3 linked regions of the Homo sapiens genome follow. The protein of the gene in region 2 interacts with the protein of the main gene of each other region in a pairwise test. Each region holds a gene or a part of one and is shown on either strand. Other genes may lie near its edges.

Region 1 (7,029 bases), on a different chromosome or scaffold from region 2:
CCCTTCGTCATTCCTCCTGCAGGTACTGAGCCTCCCCCTTTCCGGCCTTGATGATCCTTTGTTCCTCATCCTGGATTCTGTATTTGTGGAGGAGTCACCTGGAACTCAGTCCTGCTGTGGATGGCAGAGGTGGTGATGGGGCTGGGGAGCTATCTGCATAAGTGCAGAGACTTTGTGCTTTTACAAACGGTGGACTAGAGGTACTTGGAGCACAGGGTTCTGTCTTTGAATCCTAGTCCCACTTTTGTGAGTTCTTGTGACCCTGAATAGATTGTCATGTTTAAGTTTTTTTCATTTATATAGTGGGGATAATAATTACTTTTCTACCTGTCTACATGGATTGTTAATGAGTTCCATTAACTTATGTACGTGAAAGAGCTTTGTACCCTGTGAAGAGTGCATAAACATTGGAATTAAAGAGGCAGGACATCCAGATGTGGGCCACCCCAGGCAGGCCCACTCAGCTCTGGCTATTGGGGGTTGGCAGTATCTCCACAAGCATGTTTTGAGTGCTAAGGGGGCACTGCTGCAGTTCTTCCATATTCCTCTCTCCCGTCCTCTGACATCATACTGGACTTCGAGGAGGAAATAGCATCAAAGGTTGAGAAACTGCTCTGTGGGGAATATGAGAGGAAGTTAAATTTCAGGACTGAGGTTACCCAACACTACATGATCGAAGGCATAGGGCAAAGTTCCAAAGAAGCTTTAATTTCGTGTTGGAATTACCTGTACTGTCTGCGCATCTCAGTTCTTAGTGGACAAACACAAACAGCTGGCCACCACCCATCCCACAGGTCAGGAGGAGGGTGCTGATGGCAATGTTGGACAATGTATTGGGTCCACCTATACCATCCTCACTCCCCTGTGCCTTCTTGCTGACTTGGGTCTCTAGTTTACTCTGCAAAGTTCTAAACTGACCAAAGGCATTGCTCCCCCACCCCCAAATTAAGCTAATTACTTAATTCAGTCTGAAAGATATTTGTTGCTCTCTACCTGTCCTGGCAAGCCAGCTGGAGGGTGGGGGAGGGGATTTAGTACCATTGAGGGGAAGGTTCTGACATCCTGGGTTATACCCACCCCTCTCTTCATCACCCCCAGTCTTATGTCCTCCTCTTTATTCCTCTTCCTTGGCTGGCCTCTTGTCCTGTGTATCTACAACCTTGAACTCCTCCCTTGCCCATGACCCCTGATACTGCCCTACTCCCATGATTCTGTCACCCCTCTTCAGATGTGAATCATTTGTACACCTCAGGCTGGGCCAGACTGGGTGTCACTGTGGAAAGCAACCTGCCCAGCACAGCCTGCCCCACCCCTTCCTGAGGATGTTCATCAACCCCTCTAATTACTCATCAGCTAGTCCTGTGTCTACATTGTTCCCTGGGACATTAAGCTGGAGCTTCTACTAGCCCTGGCCTTGACTCACCCATGTGCAGATTGACCAGTTATCAAGGGATGGCTTGGCAGGTGGCAGGGCTGGGTTGGAGGGCACATTAGCCCCTCCATAAGTGCACTATTTGGTCCAAAGGCCTTCCAAGCAAACATGCGGTCTAAATAAAAGCAGTGTATTTGCTTTATAAATGCAGCTTTAAGGCAAGCCCCTGGTCTCCCCTTTTAAGCCAAGCTATCCCGAAGCACATCCTCTGTAGAAATTCTGGAGCTGCCCCCAGACAGACTCAGACCATGTAATTCAAAGATAGGCAGCGGAGTCTATCAGCAGCATTCACTCCCTAAGGAGGTAGAAAGCCAGAGTTAAGACTCAAAGCCATTGGCAGTGACTAGTTATAGAAAACCAAAGCAAGGGATCAAGTATAGAATTTATTGGGAGCACATCAGTGAATCATTTACCTCCTGCCCTGTTTGATTTTTAGTAAGTCAGTTCGTCGAATGGGGGTAAGGAAGGCCTTTCTCTGGACAAAAACTATCACATGGGTCTGGTGAAGAGAAAATAAGTAGTATAATCTTTTTCTATGTCTCCATGGCATTAGGTTTGAAATCTCAATCTCTCCCTCTCTCTCCCTCCCTCCTTCTCTCTGTCTCTGCCTCTCTCTGTGTGTGTGTGTGTGTGTGTGTGTGTGTATGTATGTATATATATATATATAAAATATACATCATCAGTCTTTATTCTGAGAGGAAGTCATAGACATTATTCTCCATCACTCTTGAAAACACTCCAGCATAAAAAAAAAAGCAAGCACTCTGTCCTCCTATATAACCAGCGTACACCCATCAAATCAGGAAATGGACATTGATACAAAACACTATCATCCAATCCACAGAGCCCATTCCTATTTCGTCAGTTATCCCCCAAATGTCTCTTCTACCTGTCTGATCTAGGATTCATGTTACATTTAGTTACCATGTCTCTTCTGGAACGGTTCCTCAGACTTTCCCTGTTCCTAAAGTGTTTGCAGTTGTATAGGTCCTACATGCTGTAGGATGACTCCCAACCTGGCTGTATTGGGTATTTCTTCACAGCCTGACTGAGGTCATGCATTCTTGGCAGGAATCCTTCAGAAATGAAACTCAGCTCTTCTTAGCTTCTTACAACAGAAGGCACATGGTGCCAACCCATCCCACTGCTGGGATATTGACCTCAATCACCTGGTTATGTTGGTGTTTGCCAGATTTCTTCACCTTAAATTCGCCATTTTTCCTTCGTTTCCCTTTGTTTCCCCAAAGGTGTTTGAAAACACCTTTGTACTAGTGTTTGTGGGGAACTATTCTAGGGTTATGCAAATAGCCTGTTCCTCATTAAACCTGTACCTACAGAAACTACCATTTATTGATGACGTCTGCCTGAATCAGCCACCTCTATGAATGTTGCCAAATGGTGATTCTTTTTTTTTTTTTTTAAGACAAGGTCTCACTCTGTTGCCATGCTGGAGTGCAGTGGCATGATCTTGGCTCACTGCAGCCCCAACCTCCTGGGCTCAAGTGATCCTCCTGCCTCAGCCCCCCAAGTTGCTGGAACTACAAGTGCACACTACCACACCTGGCTTATTTTTTTTTTTTTGTATTTTTTGTAGAGATGGAGTTGGTTTCACCATGGTGCCCAAGCTGGTCTCGAAATCCTGAGCTCAAGTGATCCACCTGCCTTGGCCTCCCAAAGTGCTGGGATTACAGGCATGAGCCCCTGCACCCAGCCTCAAGTGATGATTCTTTATCACCGTCACTCTTTCTACATTTGTTAGTTGGCATACTACTATAAGGAAGAACTTTATTTTTCTGTTATGTTTTTACTAAGAACTGTTCATGGATTCCTTATGTATTCAATAAGTTGAAGTCTCACGATTGTTTTTTATTTTAATGCTCAAATTGTGCTCAATTTGGCCAATGGGGACCCCTTGGAGCTGCCTCCTGTGTCCTTTTAACACATCCCTATTATTCATTGAGCATTTCTTTATTTTCTGGCTCCACCAGATCATCTGGACTCATCTTCTACTTTCCTTGACCTAGTTAGGCCTCCCTTTTAGTAGAGAATGGTACTTTTGTCTTATTTATATTTTATATATTTAAGGCATACAACATGATATTTTCATGTATTTATCTTGATAAACATAGATGTAATGAAGTAATTACTACAGTCAAGCAAATTGACATGCCCATCATAGTTACCTTTCTTGTGTTTGTGATAAGAGTACCTAAAATCTACTCTCTTGGCAAATTAGCAGAATACAATATTTATTAATTTTAATTTTTTTAGAGACAGGGTCTTGCTCTGTACTACAGGCTGGAGTGCAGTGGCGTGATCATAGTTCACTGCAGCCTCTAACTCCTAGGTTTGAGCAGTCCTCCTATCTCAGCCTCCCAAGTAGCTAGGACTCCAGGTGCTCACCACCATTCCCGGCTAATTTAAAAAATATTTTTTAGAGGAGGGGTCTTGCTGTGTTGCCCAGGCTGGCCTCCAACTCCAGCCTTGAATCATCCTCCTGCCTTGGCATCCCAGGTGCTGGGATTACAGGTATGAGCTACCATGCTCAGCCTCAATACAGTATTAGTAACTGTAGTCCTTGTGTTGTACATTAGTGGAAACAGGGAAAAACAGAAGATGTAGATTAAAAGGTACGAAGTTGCAGTTATGTAGGATGAATAAGTCTTGAGATCTAATATGCAATATGAGAATTGTATTTAGACACCAATACATAGGAGGTTGATGTGCCCATTGTTACTGGGGTATTATTGCTTCTAGATCTCTCAGAGGACAGAGCTAGGAAATATATGTGTATATGTGTACACACATTTATAAATTTTTCTATATTAGGCTGTGTATTATAAAATCATGATTCATACTTATACCTACAATTTCAATCTAACACCCAAAGAGCTTTCTGTTCTTCCCCCTTTATATGTTTGTACATATCTTCTCTGGCAGTTAGAAAACCTGACTCTCATTATCTTCAATATTTTTGCTTATTTGCATACAGTAACCAGTCTTACAAATGTGAAGGTCATCCTGCCTCCTCTGTGTCCACCACCTTTGCCACTGCCTCTTGTCCTCGGCTGCCAGGCCTGCTAGCCTGTGTCTCTATGTAGCTTAATCATCAGTCTCCAGTCCCTCTAGCTCACAGCTCTTCCCAGCCATAGCTCATGTCTCTATGTACCTCCCCAAACTCCCCAGCCTCACGTTGCATTCCCAGCTACATGCTGATTGCTGTGTTCTGGGGAAGGAAGAAAAGAGAAGGGAAAGGAAGAAAGAAAATAGGAATGGAAGGAAAGCAAAGAGGAATAGTGTATATATTTTAAAGTCTCATTAGATATTGCCAAATTGCCTTCCCCCAAAGTTCTATCAGTTTACATTCTCACCAACATGTTATGAGGGTACTATTTTCCCCACATTCTTGCCAACACTTGTTGGCAAGTAATAGCCGCTTGTTTAAATGTTATCAATCTGATAGCACTCCAGTTTTAGCTCTATTACAGCTCTGCCACACTTAACCCTGTATTATATGTCTCATCTCACCCTCTAGGTCAGGATTTCTCAACCTTAGCACCACTGACATTTTGGACCGGATACTTCTCTGTTGTGGAGAGCTGGCCTGTGCATTGTAGCGTGTGCAGCAGCATTCCTGGCCTCTGCCCGGTAGATGCCAATAGTACCCCCCTCCCCCAAGTCATGACTGATGCAGATGTCTCCAGATATTGCTAGGAATCCCTGGGAGGAGGAGAGGATTGGCCCTGGCTGCTCTAGATAATGAGTTTCCTGGGGGAATTTTGCATCTTTACACATGTCTTCATGCACTTCTGTCTTTGACGTACATATGCTGAACAGTGAGAGAACGTTAGCTGGACAGGGATGAGAGGAATAAAAGGTTAGGTGGAATCCACTACAACAGGACCAGTGGAACTTGTTCACTGCAAGTATGCAACTTTCCACAAATGCAAATTCCAGGAACATCCAACAGAGGGAAGTGAAGAGGAATGTCAGCAAGGTTAACTTTCCATGGATTGCTACCAGGTTATTACTTGTCTTTCTGAGTTCATTTTTGCCCCAGTTTCGTACAGACAGACAATGAGGTCTGTGGCCTATTTCAGCTGATATACTCTGTTTTGTTGATGGGGAAAGTAAAATGCTTTAGGAGAAGGTGTTAACATCATTTAACATTGTAGAGGTAAACTGAGTTTCTTCTGAGCTTTCTCTGAAACAGGCAAACTGACTAATGGTTGCTAATTTCTATGATGCATTTAGAGTTTTACTGTGATATTTTCATTTGATTATATAGATTTTCCTCCATAAACTCTTACCAAAAACTCTAAGGAGAGATGTGCTTCAAGATTTTTATTGACATTTACCACAATCATTATGTTAGAAATGCAAAATGCTTGTTCCCCGGTGCCACAAAGAAATAGCGCTTGAACATAAATTTAATTCTCTCAGCAAGGCAATTTTTACTTTCTGCGGAAAGGGTATACTCACCAGCAGTCTTGCCACGAGAGTACACCAAACAAAGGAAAAGCAGACATATTTATCCCTTACACATTTGGGTTGTCCTCACTGCTGTGTCCTGCATCCACTGGCTGGAGCCGAACCTCACAGTCTAAACTGATACCCGATTTGCTAAGAGCCTAAAACTTTTTTAGATAGGTAAAGGCAAGGGAGAACAAAGGAAAAGAGGAAGTTGCTTTTGAAAAATTTAAAGAAGTAATAACATTTCCAAATAAGAAAGGGGCATAGGCTGTGAGCTGGAACATGCCTGTGAGCATGTCCAACAGCTACATGCTTAACAAAGAGTTATTAGCACAAAGCAAGGAGGCTTGAAGAAAAATTTTAAAAGAAACTATTATTTCTAACATTTATGATTTATTATTTAACAAGAAGGGAAACTTTGAAGAGGAAACTTTTTACTTTCTGCAATTATATTTCTTCTAGATTCAGTAAATGTTTGCAAAAGGCATTAATGTCATTATGGAGAACAAATCTACGTCTTACATTTCTCTGGGGGTCAGGTGGCAGAGACTGCTTCCAAAAAGAGGCTCCAGTGGTCAGTATTGTTTAAAAAAAAAAAAAACAAAAAAATCCCTGGGCCAGAAGGATGAGGGCTGGTCAGGGTGAATCAGTCCCCAATTTCTACATTTCTTCTCTGTAAAATGGAGAATGCTGAACTGCCCATCTCACTGTGGGATCAAATGGGGAAAGAGATGTAAACTTTGAAATTTGTTCACTAGTATATCAGTGAATGTGTTTTGGTGGATTACTCCAAGATCCTGAAGGAGTGGTTTAGAGGAAGTATGGTAACATAGTAAGAATGTTAAACATTAGGTTTTCAACCCAGCTGGCTAAACCCCTCTTTCCTGATTGTACACATTCATCTGGGACTCTGGGACTAAAAGGTAATGAAAAACACCAGCTAGTGACTCTCTGACTAGATTGGTAGAAGAGAGAAGGCTTTGGCTTTAGGGTGTTATTGTGGTGACCCACCCAGTGTGAGGGAAAGGATTCTTCCTTTGGTCTCCTCTTCCCAATATTCTCTGTTGGGGTCCCTTTTCCCCAGCCTTTTGGGAACAAGCTCACCGTGGAGCTCAGTGGACTTT
Region 2 (7,029 bases):
TACAAAAAGGCTTCTTATCTTTAAGAAAAGGGAAAAGTGGCCAGGAGCAGTGGCTCACGCCTGTAATCCCAACACTTTGGGAGGCTGAGGCAGGCGGATTGCCTGAGCTCAGGAGTTCATAAACAGCCTGGGCAACACGATGAAACTCCGTCTCTACTAAAATACAAAAAAAAATTAGTCGGACATGGCGGTGTGCACCTGTAGTCCCAGCTGCTCAGAAGTCTGAGACAGGAGAATTGCTTGAATCCTGAAGGTGGAGGTCGCAGTGAGCCGAGATCGCACCACTGCACTCCAGCCTGGGCGACACAGCGAGACTCCATCTCAAAGAAAAAAAAAAAAAAGAAGGGGGAAAAGCTTTTAAAGTAGTTATGATTGCACAGTCTGAGCAACTATGACCACTGGGCCTAAGTAAAGTGCAAATTCAGGTGGGTGACCCTTCCAACTGCATCTGGAGCCACAGTCATGGCCTGTGTGTTAATGGCAGGTGGGAGGGTAACACTGATCTGTGGCCTCTAGCTTAAAAGCAGCCTAAGTGTAGTTCCATATATGAAATTTCATTCTAAGTCTGTGGCCAAAGAGCTCAAATCCCATTAGAACCCAGGCTAAACCTCCAAGAGCAGTAGGAGGCCAGAGTCATGGCTTCAGGGTTCTCCCAGAGCAGAGTGGACCAGACATAGCCATGCACATGCGAAAACTTGTGTGCATTTGCACACTTGATTTCCTTTGCATGTGCATGGCCATGCAGGCAAATGTGGCTTGATGTGGGCCAGGACTCTCTCATTGTTCCCCAGGACTCCCTTAAGAGGCCTGGAATCTCCATGGCACATTAGCATGTGTCTACAACATGAATGACACCTACTAAGTGTGGCATCGTATGCAGGTCAGTCTCAACAGCTGCATGCAGTACTCCTCCTGGCTCTCTGTGACTCCTTGGCCATGGAAAGCCCACACTTACATATGCTAAAGCCTCCATTCTTCTCTCTGCAGGGATGACATGCCAAGCTCGAAGCTCCTACATCACCAGTGAGATCCTGTGGGGTTACCGGTTCACACCTGTCCTGACCCTGGAGGACGGGTTCTACGAAGTTGACTACAACAGCTTCCATGAGACCTATGAGACCAGCACCCCATCCCTTAGTGCCAAAGAGCTGGCCGAGTTAGCCAGCAGGGCAGAGCTGCCCCTGAGTTGGTCTGTATCCAGCAAACTCAACCAACATGCAGAACTGGAGACTGAAGAGGAAGAAAAGAACCTCGAAGAGCAAACAGAAAGAAATGGTGATGTGGCAAACCTGGAGAATGAATCCAAAGTTTAGTGCCCTAGCTGGGCAAACCCTTCTCTTCTCCCCCCAACACAATCTTTCCTTGTCTCTCATTCTCTTTCTTTTTCTGTCTCTCTTGCTTTGTTCTTTATTTGTTTATATTTAATTTTTACATGACCAGAAAACAAATCTTCAAGGTGTAAAATATCTACCTGCCCTCTCTCAGTTATTCAGATTGACAAGGTAGACATGGATTTGATGAAAGTGCAAAGTGCCCTCATTTGTGGCCCAAGCCTGGTCTCCTCCCAAAATACTACACATCCAACTCCTGGAGATTTCAGTTACTTACCTGCATGTGTTGTACAATACCAGATCACTCAAAAAGGTGTGTCAAAGATTTTACCTGGGATATGACAAGCAAGGTTTCTGGTGCCTATTTATTCATTCAGTGAGACACAGAGTGGAGCCCTCAGTTTTATGGATCCCAATTCATTTCATCTACTACAGGGTGAGGTGCTTGCCCCCATGTGGGTGTGGCAGTTACAGGGCCCAGGTGAGCTGAAGACAAACCACTGTACATATATATGCCTTATGTAATTATTTTCTTTTTGTAATTAGTAATAAAACCCAGCATGTACAAAAGTACCATAGAACAGAACTGCTAAATACTGTACATAGATGTATCATTAATGTAGGTTTAGATATATAACTTTAGAAATAAGAAGCAAAAAAAAAAAGAAAGAAAGAAAGATTCCTAACATGCAGTAGGCATTTCTGTTTTGATGTCTGTGTTTTCCAGGTTATTTTGATCCAGTTGACGGCTGGCCCTTCAGTGCATGGCCTTTGTTTGTGTCTCAGACTGGCAGACGTTAGGGTACCTCACTGTTCCCACACGGATCCTTTCATTGAATCCAACAAGCCATAGGTCTGGGGGAAATTGAGAGGTCTGGTAGATGGCAAAACCCACCACCAATATGCTGATATACTGTGAAATGTTACAAAACAGATGTCTTTTTTTAAAAGATAACAAGGGCCTCACTAACTGGCCTGGAGGAGGGGGAATACCAGGAAGGAAATATTCTCTAGCCTGTCACCAAAGGTATGTTTTTACTTTTCACATGAGCTCTTGCCCTTTGTAGTACAATAATTTAGGAAACTTTTCTGCAAAACCATTGATTCTCCAGCTGTAGTTTCTCTACACTCTTACAATGAGACATGGTAAGTTAGCAGAAGATGGTTTGGGTCTAAAGCCGTGAAATTCACAAAGGCATGTAGTGAGTGGCATGCATTATAATCATCGACCTCTCACTTTGACTCTATCTGGCTTTCTGAGAATGACATCTCGCCTGTCCCTGGGGCTTATCCATCAGCATTTCTTGCATTGTGATCTTTTATTATTTTGAAATGACCAGAGTTCAGTATTCAAAGATTAGATCAACAATCTTGATGATTGTCTAAGAAATGTCTCTAGAGTATGCCACAGGCTAGAAATCAAATCCAGTGTCTGTCAATCAAAAGAAAACAAATAAAAAAATTCCAGCCTTAATTCACTTTAATCTGCAAAAAGGAAAGAAGGGAGGAAGGGAGGGAGGAAGGAAGGAAGGAAGGAAGGGTATTTGTACTGGAAATCTGAATTTTAAAATGAAAAAAATAAGGAAACAAATCTTAGATCAAACCTCCGGGGCAGGTGGAGATTTTGCACTGTTACAGATCTTTCACATTCACTTTGCATTTATAAGCTGTTTGTTCTTTAACACAGTTGCCCATCATAAATATTCATTGAATGGATCCAAGTTTATTTTCAGCTCCTACAGCTGTGCTCAGTTTGAGGCTCTGCACCATGGAGGTCAAAGAGATCAAACTAGCTGTCCCTCTTTGTTTCCCTTGCCTTCCCTGACCTGATCGCACAGGCCTTTGGTGTAGTCTGGGGACCTTGTCTACTAAAAAAGAAGTCCCAGGATAAGGAAAGTGGCTCCTAAATATAACCTCGGGGCCTCTCTTCTCCCATCTCAGAGACCTTGGATCAGGACAACTGCCTCTTGGCACTGACTTTAAGGAAAACAAAACTGTTGGCTATAGCCCTTTCCTGTTTGCCAGCATTTCCTTTTTTGCATTGAATCTCTGTTGAATCATTTCTTTATTTCGCACACTCTAAGAAGGAGGTGGTGGTCCGGGAGGAGGAAGCTCGATACACTCCCCTTGAGGCTGCGGGGAGGAGCCATGGCTTGACCTCTCTGCAGCCTAATGAAGGGCACTCTTGGCTTGGGGAGCTCCCCTGCAACCTTGCCAGGGTCGCAGGGCAGGCCATGGCAGGCACAAAACAAGATGGAATAGGGGCGGCAAAATGTCTTCTAATTTAGCTCTTGAAGACTCACTGGGCCTTTTTAATTCCATTGCTAAGGTTTAAAGGACAGCGCACACCCCCGTGTCTGGTTGGAAGAGCAAGCAGCTCAGGGCCTCATCCCTGCTTGCCTGCCCTTTAGCACAACTGAACGAAGAGCCTTGACAACACGTTGGCCACGTGCACCTGTCAGTTCTGTGTCTGTGACGGGCACCCAGATGTGAGGTCTCTCCCTGTTTCTCACTGTCTTTGTTGTCAATGTAGTTGGAGACAGAACTTGAACCAAATCTCGTTTTTGTAATGTGAGCCTCTGAATCTTTACATGGGGATGCTCCTGAAGAACCTTTTACTAGAATGTCCCTATCAAACATGTCTATTTTTCTACAGTTGTTAACACAGTTTAACAGTGTATTTTGTGTCAACTGTTAAAATTTGGAACTGAAAGTTCATTGAGACTGATTTTCTAAGCAGCGAGTAGTGAGTGAATGGTGTTTTCCATTAAGACAGCTCAACAAAATTGACCCCACAATTTCCACTCATTCTATTCCGCAATATCCAGTCCTCATTCCCTCAGTCACTCCATTAGCAAACCAAGTGCAATGAGAATTTTTTAAAAGTCTCTTTTAATACAACAGTATCCATAACTAATGAAGATCACTCTCAACTAGATCCTTTGGTCTGTTTGGTTAATGTATTTGAGTCATTTTTCCATAAAGCATGGTGGGATCCGTGAGCCAGATAAGAATTTGGAATTTAAGGGTTATGGTTTGCCACAGTTGACCCCAATTTGACAGAACAAAGTGCTCCTGGATGGAAGGGCAGGTTCAGCTGCAAGCATGACCCCCCACCACAAGGCTGCTGAGTTCCTCGGATTCTCACCTCCACCCACCCCAACGTGCTCTCCAACTGGAAGAGCACCCATTCATTTATAAATCAACTTTATGGAACCAATAAAATCATTTCTGTTTTAGCTGTCCCCTGGGTAAGCTATACTCTTTTACATTAACATAGCAAATGTCAACTTTTCTGTTCCTTCAAACATGGCCTTCCAGCCTGGTTGTTCCAGCATATATCCCCTCTATGTCCATGAGGCAGAACTCTCTCTTCCCCCACTCCGTTCTTCCATCTATCCCCATCCTTTGCTGTTTCCCTGGTTCTCCAGTTCCAATTCTATTGTTTTAGTTCAGTACCTTATGTTCCCTAACAGAAATCCAGCTGCAAATGTCAACCTATTTCTTAAGCACAATTTTCTCTTGCAGGTCTAACCAAGCTAGGGCTCTGAAATGTCTATTTTTCACTGCACTCCAATTTAAAAATTATTCATGACTTCATTTAATAGTCTAAATTTTGAATTCTCCAGAGCAACATTCTTATGCTTTCCATCCCTACATTTTCTTACATTTCAGTTTTCTTACTTTTTTCCCCTTTGCTTTTTTATTTAGATTTAAGCCAGTGTCTTTGGGATATTTAGAAACTGCTTACAAAGGTGGGAACTGGTGGACAGAGAAAGGGGGCATAAGAATGCTATTAGAAAACTACCTGAACTCACCAGAAGAATGGGAAATCATTTGATTTGCTGAGAGAATACAATTAAAATACTCATAGTAAATCATTTCCAAAACAGTTTGCTAATAGTCTGGCTACTCTTCAGTCTTTCTTTCCTTGACTTGGGTGATACTCTGTATGATTTAAAAATGTCAGGAAGGTAGTTGAAAGTTCAGTGTCCTCTATATATTGTAAACATTATCTTCAAGGATGATTTCCTTTCAATGGATGGCTTTAACATTGAAAAACATAGGTAACATATACATAATAGATGATTCATTGATATTACTTTACAATACACTAAAATAACATTATCTTGTTTCTGAACTTTATGGCCAACCGGTATCTAAGAAAATGTTAGCCTTTAATTTAAAATTGAGTAAAGCACGCCTCTTCCTAATATTTCTGCCTTTAATGTCTTGAGTGCTTTAGATGCAGAGTGTCATCTAGAAGTCAAAATTCTGTCAGAAGGCTGCTAAGAGATTTTGATAAATCACAGAATATATAATAATAACCCAACAATATTTTACCCAACATGGTGTGGTGTTTGAGAGCATTAAGAGCACTTGTACAAATTATCTTATTTCATTCTAATTCACCATGAGAGGTTGAGTATTATAATTTACATTTTATAGAGGGAAAACTAGGGTTTGGGCAAATTGGCCAAGTTTAAAGGCCAGTGAATCATAGCTCCTTGTCTCAAATCCAGGTCACAGGGCCCTAAGCTGTGGGCTATTTTTACTACAAAAAATTTCAGCAAACCAAATCTGCTAAAAAAAAAAAAATCTGGCCTGCTGCCTGTTATTGTACCACTTGTGAGCTAAGAGCAATTTTTACATTTTTTAATAATTGGGGGAAAAAAAAGAAAAGAAGAATATTTTGAGACATGTGAAAATCATCCTAAATTCAAATTTCAATGTCCACAAACAAAGTTTTATTGGAACACAGCCACAGCCATTTGTCTGTGTATTGCCTATGGCTGCTTCCACATGCACTCACAGAGCTGAGTAATTACAACAGAGACCGTGTGGCCAGCAAAGATTGAAATATTTACTATCTGGCCCTGTATAAAAAAAGTTTGCTGACCCCTGTACTGTACTGTTAAGTACTATTGGTACTATTAAGTACTAGTAATAGTACTATTAATAATAGTATGTAAGAGTACTAAGTACTATGAAATATTGTACTGTACTCTTAAGAGAGTCCTAGGCAATATAGAAGAATGACTTTTTTTCTAGCATAAATTATTGAAGTCACTCATAAGTCTGTTCAAAATAACATAACTCTTTTTTTTCGGTTGTCAAAGAGACAACTGCTTCACAAGACTTAGAGAGCCCAGTCATTCAGTTAGGGTCTCAAAGGAAGAATCCTTCCTTTTCATGCCATTCCTCCAGAGTGGCAAATAGAGTCAACAGCCAGCCAGGATCTAGCGGTCAACTCAGAAAGTGGATACAGTAAAATTACTCCTTAATGAACTACAGAGAAATGGGCATTCCCAGCCCAGCCGCTGAAATATTGCTTCAGTGGCACCCTCAGGCGTTGGATGATGTACATAGCTCAGGCTGCCAGTCTCTGCTCAGCAAAGCAGCCCAGACCTGCAGTGGTTGCCACACATCAAACCCGCCTCGCTCCTCCACATGGCTTCTCTCTTAGGCTCTCTTGGAGGAGAGTTAAATAGGTGGCCCAGATGTCTCCCTCTGTTTTCTTGCTAGTTTTCTCTAGCCTACAGTTTACAACTGATCAAGGTGATGAACGTGAACCTGGAACTAGCTCATGTTTAATTGCGCTAGTTTTTGCTCTCTCTAGCCACTAAGCTAGAAGTTTAATGTGTAATTAAAGAACTAAATGCTTCTTATGGAAAACCAAAAGGTCCTTTGAAAAGAG
Region 3 (7,029 bases), on a different chromosome or scaffold from region 2:
ACCCAGATGGCCTGACTCCCAGGGCCCAAGTTTGTAATCCCCTGTGGGTTTCACCACTCTGCCATGGCCATGGGCCTTCCAATGGGAGGATCTCTGTTCTACCTCAGCTAAGACGTGCTCTCAATTCTACATCTTTCTTTCTCTCCCATTCTCTGTTTTCCTAGCCTAAGCCACCCTACAGTATGTGTTCCCCTGGCCTCATAGTGATTTCTTTTAAGATGAGAGTCTCTTCTCTGCATGGGGACTTATGCCAACCTCAGCCAGCTGTACTTGGTGCCTCTGAGTACAGTTTTGCTCCAGGAGAGAATGTTCAGTGTCCCCAGGAAAAGACAGAGAAAAATATTTTCCTCTCCTTGAAAATTAGCGTGCTATCTCTCCCTCTTGTGTTGCCTCTTCCTACTATAGTTCACACCCAACCTCTTCCTGAAGCAGATGCTAGAGAGGTACCAAAACAACAGCCCTCCAAACAATGATGACCAGTGGAAAAACAATGGAGTCACCAAAACCTGGGACAGGCTCATGCTCCAGGTAAGACCTGTGGTCTTGGGGAGATGCCATTTTTACTTACTGGTGGGAGTGGGTGTCATACACATGACTCAGTGGGACCCTATATTTTATTTCAAGCCATGATGATTAGCTTACATTTGTTGGAATGATTTTGTCAAGAAACTTAGGTTAATCATACACTCTCCCTCTTAGAACTCAGGTATCATTTACATTAAAAGAAAAATATTTTCTCTACCCCACAGTGAACTCGAGTGGTAATTACTGCCTGTTTCGCCTTTTGGGTACCTCTTCACAACTCCTGTGAGCTAGTCTTGCCAAGGACCAGGCCCTATATCTTGATTTGATCACCCAATTTTCTCCAACTGGCAATCATAGTTTATGTCCATGTTTATCTCCAGTGCCATCAAAAGTCCAAGTCTTCCAGAATATCCATCATCACCCCCACATTGCCCTCTGTATGCAAATTGTTATCCTCTACATAACTACCAATCTGACCTAGCTTTCTTACTGGCCCCTGCTCCTACTCCACACCCCACCACCAACTTTTTACAGTCTGTCATCAGCAAACTCCCTTATAGCCACCACTCCTTCTATGAACTCTTTACTATCTTTTTCTTGCTTCATTGGAAATTTGGCTATCTCCTGGGAGTGCTACCTGCCCTTCATTTTCCTCCCATATCCATGTACCATAGGACCTGGAAATTGGCTAGGTGTCCTTCTTGCTCCCCTTGGCTGCCATACTATTTGCTTCCTTGATCTACATCACCCCTTATCCTTCCTTGCCATTACTTACCAGCCTCCCTACCCTCAGTCGTTCTCCTGCCTTCATTAGGGATTTCAATATCTCACTTAACTATCTACCTCTTCAGTCATACTCCTGATATCCCACCTAGAAACTTCAGCAGCCACATGGATGACTCAGCAACATTTAGTCTCACAATTCCTTGTCCTACCCCATTCCAAAGATTTTGTCTTTCTCCCCACCTCCACCCTCTTCCATGACCATAGTCAGCATGCCATCACCAGTAACTGTGCCACTAAGAACATTCCATTCTCTGACCATTAATTTCTATCATTTCTTTCATTTATTCTAATATCTCAATTCTAATAATTTTATTCCATTAGGACCTCCAATTAATTGACCACTTTTTAACTTTTATCACCCCTTTCATGTTTTCTCTTTCCTCTTTGCCTAACCCATATTCAGGTCCAGCCCCATAGCCAGTCCTTCCCTACCCTTCTCTGTGGGTCACTCTTTCCTAACCAAGCCCACCGAGTAGAATATAGCTTTTTGCTCACTCTTCGTTTATACTCTAAGAGCTAAACATTGCTGAGAAAAGTCACACAACCATGATCATTTCAATTTAAACTTGTGACCACAGAGCTCAAATGGGCACACAATATTTCCTAGTATATTTTCCCAGAAAATTCACTTGTCACTATTTCACATGTTCTTCCTTCATGCCTGCCACACCTCTTCTCACCCTCCCTCTCAGTTGATGACCCGACCTCATATGTTTTTAAGAATATAGAAGAAATTAGACAAGAACCACCTCATCTTTCTACCACCAAATCTACATTGATATACACCTGTGCACTTTGCCTTCTCTCTTGTTATGTCACACAGGCTGTCCTTTGTCCAGCTCTTTTGATTCTGTTCTGCATTCCATCTCCTTTGCCCCAACAGTCTTCCCTGCTCTGATCTGCCTCATCAGTTTCTCCCTTTCAACAGCCTACATGGACACCTTAAATTGTCTATCTTATAAAAAGACTCCCTTGTCCAACATTCACCCACTATTCTGTCCTACTACTGTTTTGTTTTATTCCACAGCAAATCTCAGAAGAGATGCCTACACTTGTGGTCCCATTTTCATCCCTCTCATCTGCTTTCATCCAACTACAATTGGCCTCTGCCTCACCACTCAACAAAAACAACCCTGCCATAATTACCAATTACCTCCATCCTGCCAAATCCAATAGCCAAGTCTCTGTCCTCATCTTCTTTGACATCTTATCAGCATTTGTCTCACTGACTACTCCCGCTTAGTCTCCTCTGCTGGGTTGTCACTCTTTACCCAAATCTGAAGCTTGGAGTGCTACAAAGCTCAATTTTGGACCCTTAAATCTTCTCTGTGCCCACTAAATCCTAGTTTGAAATAAGCCTGGCTTAGACTTAACCATTTTTCCCAGAATGCAGAATAATTATTTTTCTTGGTTAGATATTTCCCATAACATAGTGACAAAATTGTATATCCTTTAAAGATGGTTGATTTATCATCAAGTTTACTTGAATACATTCATTCTAAAAGTTCCAAGATACCCATGGTTTTAACTTCCTCCCTTTTGAAGGATTTTAGGAGAATTGATAACAAAGAAGGAAAGCTATATGAATTGTGTTTTGTCCTCTATTCTCAATTCTATCCAGAGTGTAAGGGATGTATTAATTGGTCTCCCTCCCCTATGTGGAGACATAGCTCTGTGTCACCAGGTTATTTTTTTCACTTTATTTTCTCCCATTATAAAAATAATACCTAATTACTCTAAAAAATGTTTAAATGTATAGAAAAGCAAAACAAGAACAATTACTCATAACTTCACCACTAAAATTTTTAATTTTATGATTCTCAATTTGCTTTGATATAATCTTTAATTTTATGATTCTCAATTTGCTCTGATATATCAGAATAATTATTCCTCTCTCACATTGTTATATCAATATATTAGTACAGTATCAATCATAATTAACATTTATTAAGAGTTTACCATAAGCCAGGCACTGTATTGAGCACATTAAGTATATTAACTCATTTAATCCTTAAAAAAACTCTATGAGATAGGTACTATATTCCAATTTTACAGTTAAGGAAACTGAGGCTTAGACAGTTTAAGTAACATGTCAATGGCTACAGGGTTCACTAATGACTAGTAAAGTAGGAAGTGTAAAAATTCTTTTACAAACTGTAAAATGTAAGTTGTAAGTTATCAATACCTTCAGCTGTCATTTGGGGATTTCTTAGTAAATGTAAGATATGGTACACTTTCCGTATCTTCTTTCTCTATAAAATTTCAGTTGCTACATTGATGGCTCTAGTAGGGACCACGAAAGAGAATTTTGTATCTCTCATCTGCTGACAGGACAATTGCTGTGGCGTAAATGGTCCATCAGACTGGCAAAAATACACATCTGCCTTCCGGACTGAGAATAATGATGCTGACTATCCCTGGCCTCGTCAATGCTGTGTTATGAACAATCTTAAAGAACCTCTCAACCTGGAGGCTTGTAAACTAGGCGTGCCTGGTTTTTATCACAATCAGGTGAGTCCTCTCTCCTCCCAAGACTTCCCAGGAGGTTCTGCTGCTCTTTATGAGAAAAATATTGGTCAACTGTAGGAAATAGTCTTTCAGTAAGGAATTCTACATTCTTTTCCCTAAACCTCATGTTAACTATTTCCTTCTCTGTTAATAAACTGCAAATGCTAAACCAGGACTGATAGGGGCAAATTTACATTTTAATAAAATTAACAAAACATGAGAATTGCAATAGCAGAACCCAACTTTGTTTAAATGAAGACAATTTGCACAATGTATGGAATTGGTATGTCAAGAAATATTTACATTAAACAAAGTTTTGCTCTAGTTTTGCAAAATGTAAATTGGAAGGGATGATGTGCAAAAAGAATGTTTTGCCAATTCCAAAGCAATGACTATTGCTGAGGATAAATGTAGTAATTACACATCCACATTCCTTATTCAATGGTAAAGTAGGACAGTCTTAATAAACATTAGGTTGGTGATTTGGATGGAAGGTAGTTTACATACAGATAGTTTTTGAAAAAGTTTCCAGGCTGATGAGGATAATGTGATTACGATCATGAAAACTAACATTTATTGTGTACTTACTAAATGCCAAACACTGTTTCCAGTGCCACACATACACTATCTCCTTTAATGCTCAGTAGTAGGTGCCAGTAGGATCCCTGTTTTACAAACGAAGAACTTAGACGTAGAGATACTAATAAATACCTTGCTGAGGTCACACAACTAGTAAATGTCCGTCTTTTCAAAAAACTCTCTGGCTTTTGAAACATGAGTTTTCTGCCTTCAAGCACAGACTCTAAGCCAGTGAAGACTTGTTAATATTCCCCAAAAGCCCTGATGAGAACCTCCAGGTACTTGTAGTCAGCATCTGCTGACCCTGTACACTGAAACGCTGTGCTCTGCTCAGGGAGTTACCTCTTTAAGGAAAGCTAGTTGTGTACCAGCTCATTAAATAATTGAGAAATGTCAGGCTGTTTTGTTTGGGAGCAGTACAAACTGCATGTTCAGATTGAGGGACATGGCACTGTTGCTGACAGGGTGCCTGGACTAGAACTGGATGCATTATTCCAGAAAAGGGCATGGGAGTGTTCTAGATTATTTTGCAGCAGTGTCCAGAGCAACCCTCATTGAGCTTTACTGCAACATTGTCTGGCATTGTTTTAATCAATTATATTCAGACTGTTATTAAAAATTAAATTTGCTGCTTATAATCAAGGTGTACAATATAATTATTCTCAGGACTATAAAAGGCTTTTGATATTTCAACACTGGAACTGCTCATGCAAACAAATCTTGATTGGATTGTAATTGTGTACAAACTGTATTACCTCTTTGAAAGGGATAAAAATAGGACATTTGTCTTCAGATAACCAGTTTATTTCATAGTTATACCTTTTTTCCTAGCACATATAATATTTTAGTTATGAGGACAAACCTGAAGCTTTTCTCAAGTTTAGATAGATGAGAAATTGAGGAAAAGATACAAATGAACTATTTTCCTCTACCTTGGGACCTCCACACCCATTTTGACAATGCTTCTAACACGTTCCCTTACAGTTCCCTGGCCTCATCTGTTCTAACAATTCCACCTCCACTACCCTACAGTTCCCTGGCTTTATCTGTTCTAACAACTCCACCTCCACTACCTACCAACTACAAATTCATCATCACTCAGCCCTACTCCTCCACCAAATTCCTGAATTCTGAAATTCCTCTCTCTGTTCCTGACTTCCTGTGCTCCTTGTTTCTCAACCTCACTCATTCTGCTCCTTTGACATAATCTCTTATCTATTAGTCCTTTCTGATTCTCCCTAGCCCAGCCTCCCAGATTCCCACACACCACCATTCTCCCTGACTCATAGGTCTTGCTAAGTCCCCTCTTGCCATCCTTTTCCACCAAGAAAAAGGTGCTACCCCAAGACCTGGTATACTTTATTTCTATTATTGCATTCACTACCTGGAACTATATTTGTTCCCAAGTCTATTTTTTCTGAGTCTCCTTGAGGACTATGTATTATTTGATTCTACAGATTTGATATTTTTAGTACTTAGCATAATGCCTGGCACAAAGCAAGCACCGACGTTTGATAGATGGGTGAATAAAGAAGTGAATAGTGAATGGTTTTTCTTTTTCTTTTTTTTTTTTTTTTTTTGAGATGGAGCCTGTCTCACTCTGTCGCCAGGCTGGAGTGCAGTGGCGCTATCTCGGCTCACTGCAACCTCCACCTCCCAGGTTCAAGTGATTCTCCTGCCTCAGCCTCCCAAGTAGCTGGGACTACAGGTGCACGCAACCACACCCAGCTAATTTTTGTATTTTTAGTAGAGATGGGGTTTCACCATGTTGGCCAGGATGGTCTCGATCTCTTGACCTTGTGATCCACCCACCTCAGCCTCCCAAAGTGCTGGGATTAAAGGAGTGAGCCACCGTGCCCAGCCTGGTTTTTGTTTTGTTTTGTTTGAGAGACAGGGTCTCACTCTGTCACCCAAGCTGGAGTGCCATGCTGCAATCACAGCTTATTGCAGCCTCAAGCTCCTGGGCTCGAGTGATCCTCCTTTCCACCTCAGCCTCCCAACTAACTACAGGCATGTACCACCAGGCCTGGCTAATTTTATTTTTTGTAGAGATGAGGTCTCACTGTGTTGCCCAGGCTTCACTTTTTGACAACCATATTGTAGGTTTTCAGGATCTACAATGCACAAATGTGCTGCTATAGCTGTGAAGACTAACAAAATTAGGGAAGTCACTATAAGCTTGTTAATAGTAGAAATTAACTAGAATTTCACACAGCATGTCAGATGCAAATATATATATATTCTATGTTATGGTTTATGTGACTCAGAAATGCTATGTGCAAATTGTGATCACTATACCTCAAAAATGTTATAATAAAATGAAGGAAGATCAAGTAAAGTACCACTAAATTGACTAGCATCACGAAAAGGCACTAAATGATGGTGAAAAAAATGGGGCTTCTGTCTGTGAGCTTCATGAAGGCAAGGCCCATTTCTGTTTGCCACAGCTAAATGCCCAGCCAGTACTTGGCACCTGGCATAAGTGGGCCCTTATATATATATTATTAGATGAACGACCACCTCCCAGGATTGTTGGGAGGACCAAGGAGTAGCAGATATGGGAGTGTTTTGTGAACCATCAAGTGTGTTGCAAATTATACTATTGTAAACATTAATGTTCCATTCATTCTG

What was found.
Region 1: the proteins of KCNJ6 (region 2) and LPAR3 interact in binary tests that used the Homo sapiens proteins (3 or more experiments, as listed by UniProt).
Region 3: the proteins of KCNJ6 (region 2) and UPK1B interact in binary tests that used the Homo sapiens proteins (3 or more experiments, as listed by UniProt).

What each region holds. Positions count from the first base shown.
Region 1 is NC_000001.11:84,883,199-84,890,227, reverse strand, and holds part of LPAR3 (lysophosphatidic acid receptor 3), read left to right. Parts: intron 1-7,029. UniProt on the Homo sapiens protein: Receptor for lysophosphatidic acid (LPA), a mediator of diverse cellular activities. May play a role in the development of ovarian cancer. Seems to be coupled to the G(i)/G(o) and G(q) families of heteromeric G proteins.
Region 2 is NC_000021.9:37,619,443-37,626,471, reverse strand, and holds part of KCNJ6 (G protein-activated inward rectifier potassium channel 2), read left to right. Parts: intron 1-987; coding exon 988-1,313; 3' UTR 1,314-7,029. UniProt on the Homo sapiens protein: Inward rectifier potassium channels are characterized by a greater tendency to allow potassium to flow into the cell rather than out of it.
Region 3 is NC_000003.12:119,190,577-119,197,605, forward strand, and holds part of UPK1B (uroplakin-1b), read left to right. Parts: intron 1-405; coding exon 406-528; intron 529-3,642; coding exon 3,643-3,822; intron 3,823-7,029. UniProt on the Homo sapiens protein: Component of the asymmetric unit membrane (AUM); a highly specialized biomembrane elaborated by terminally differentiated urothelial cells.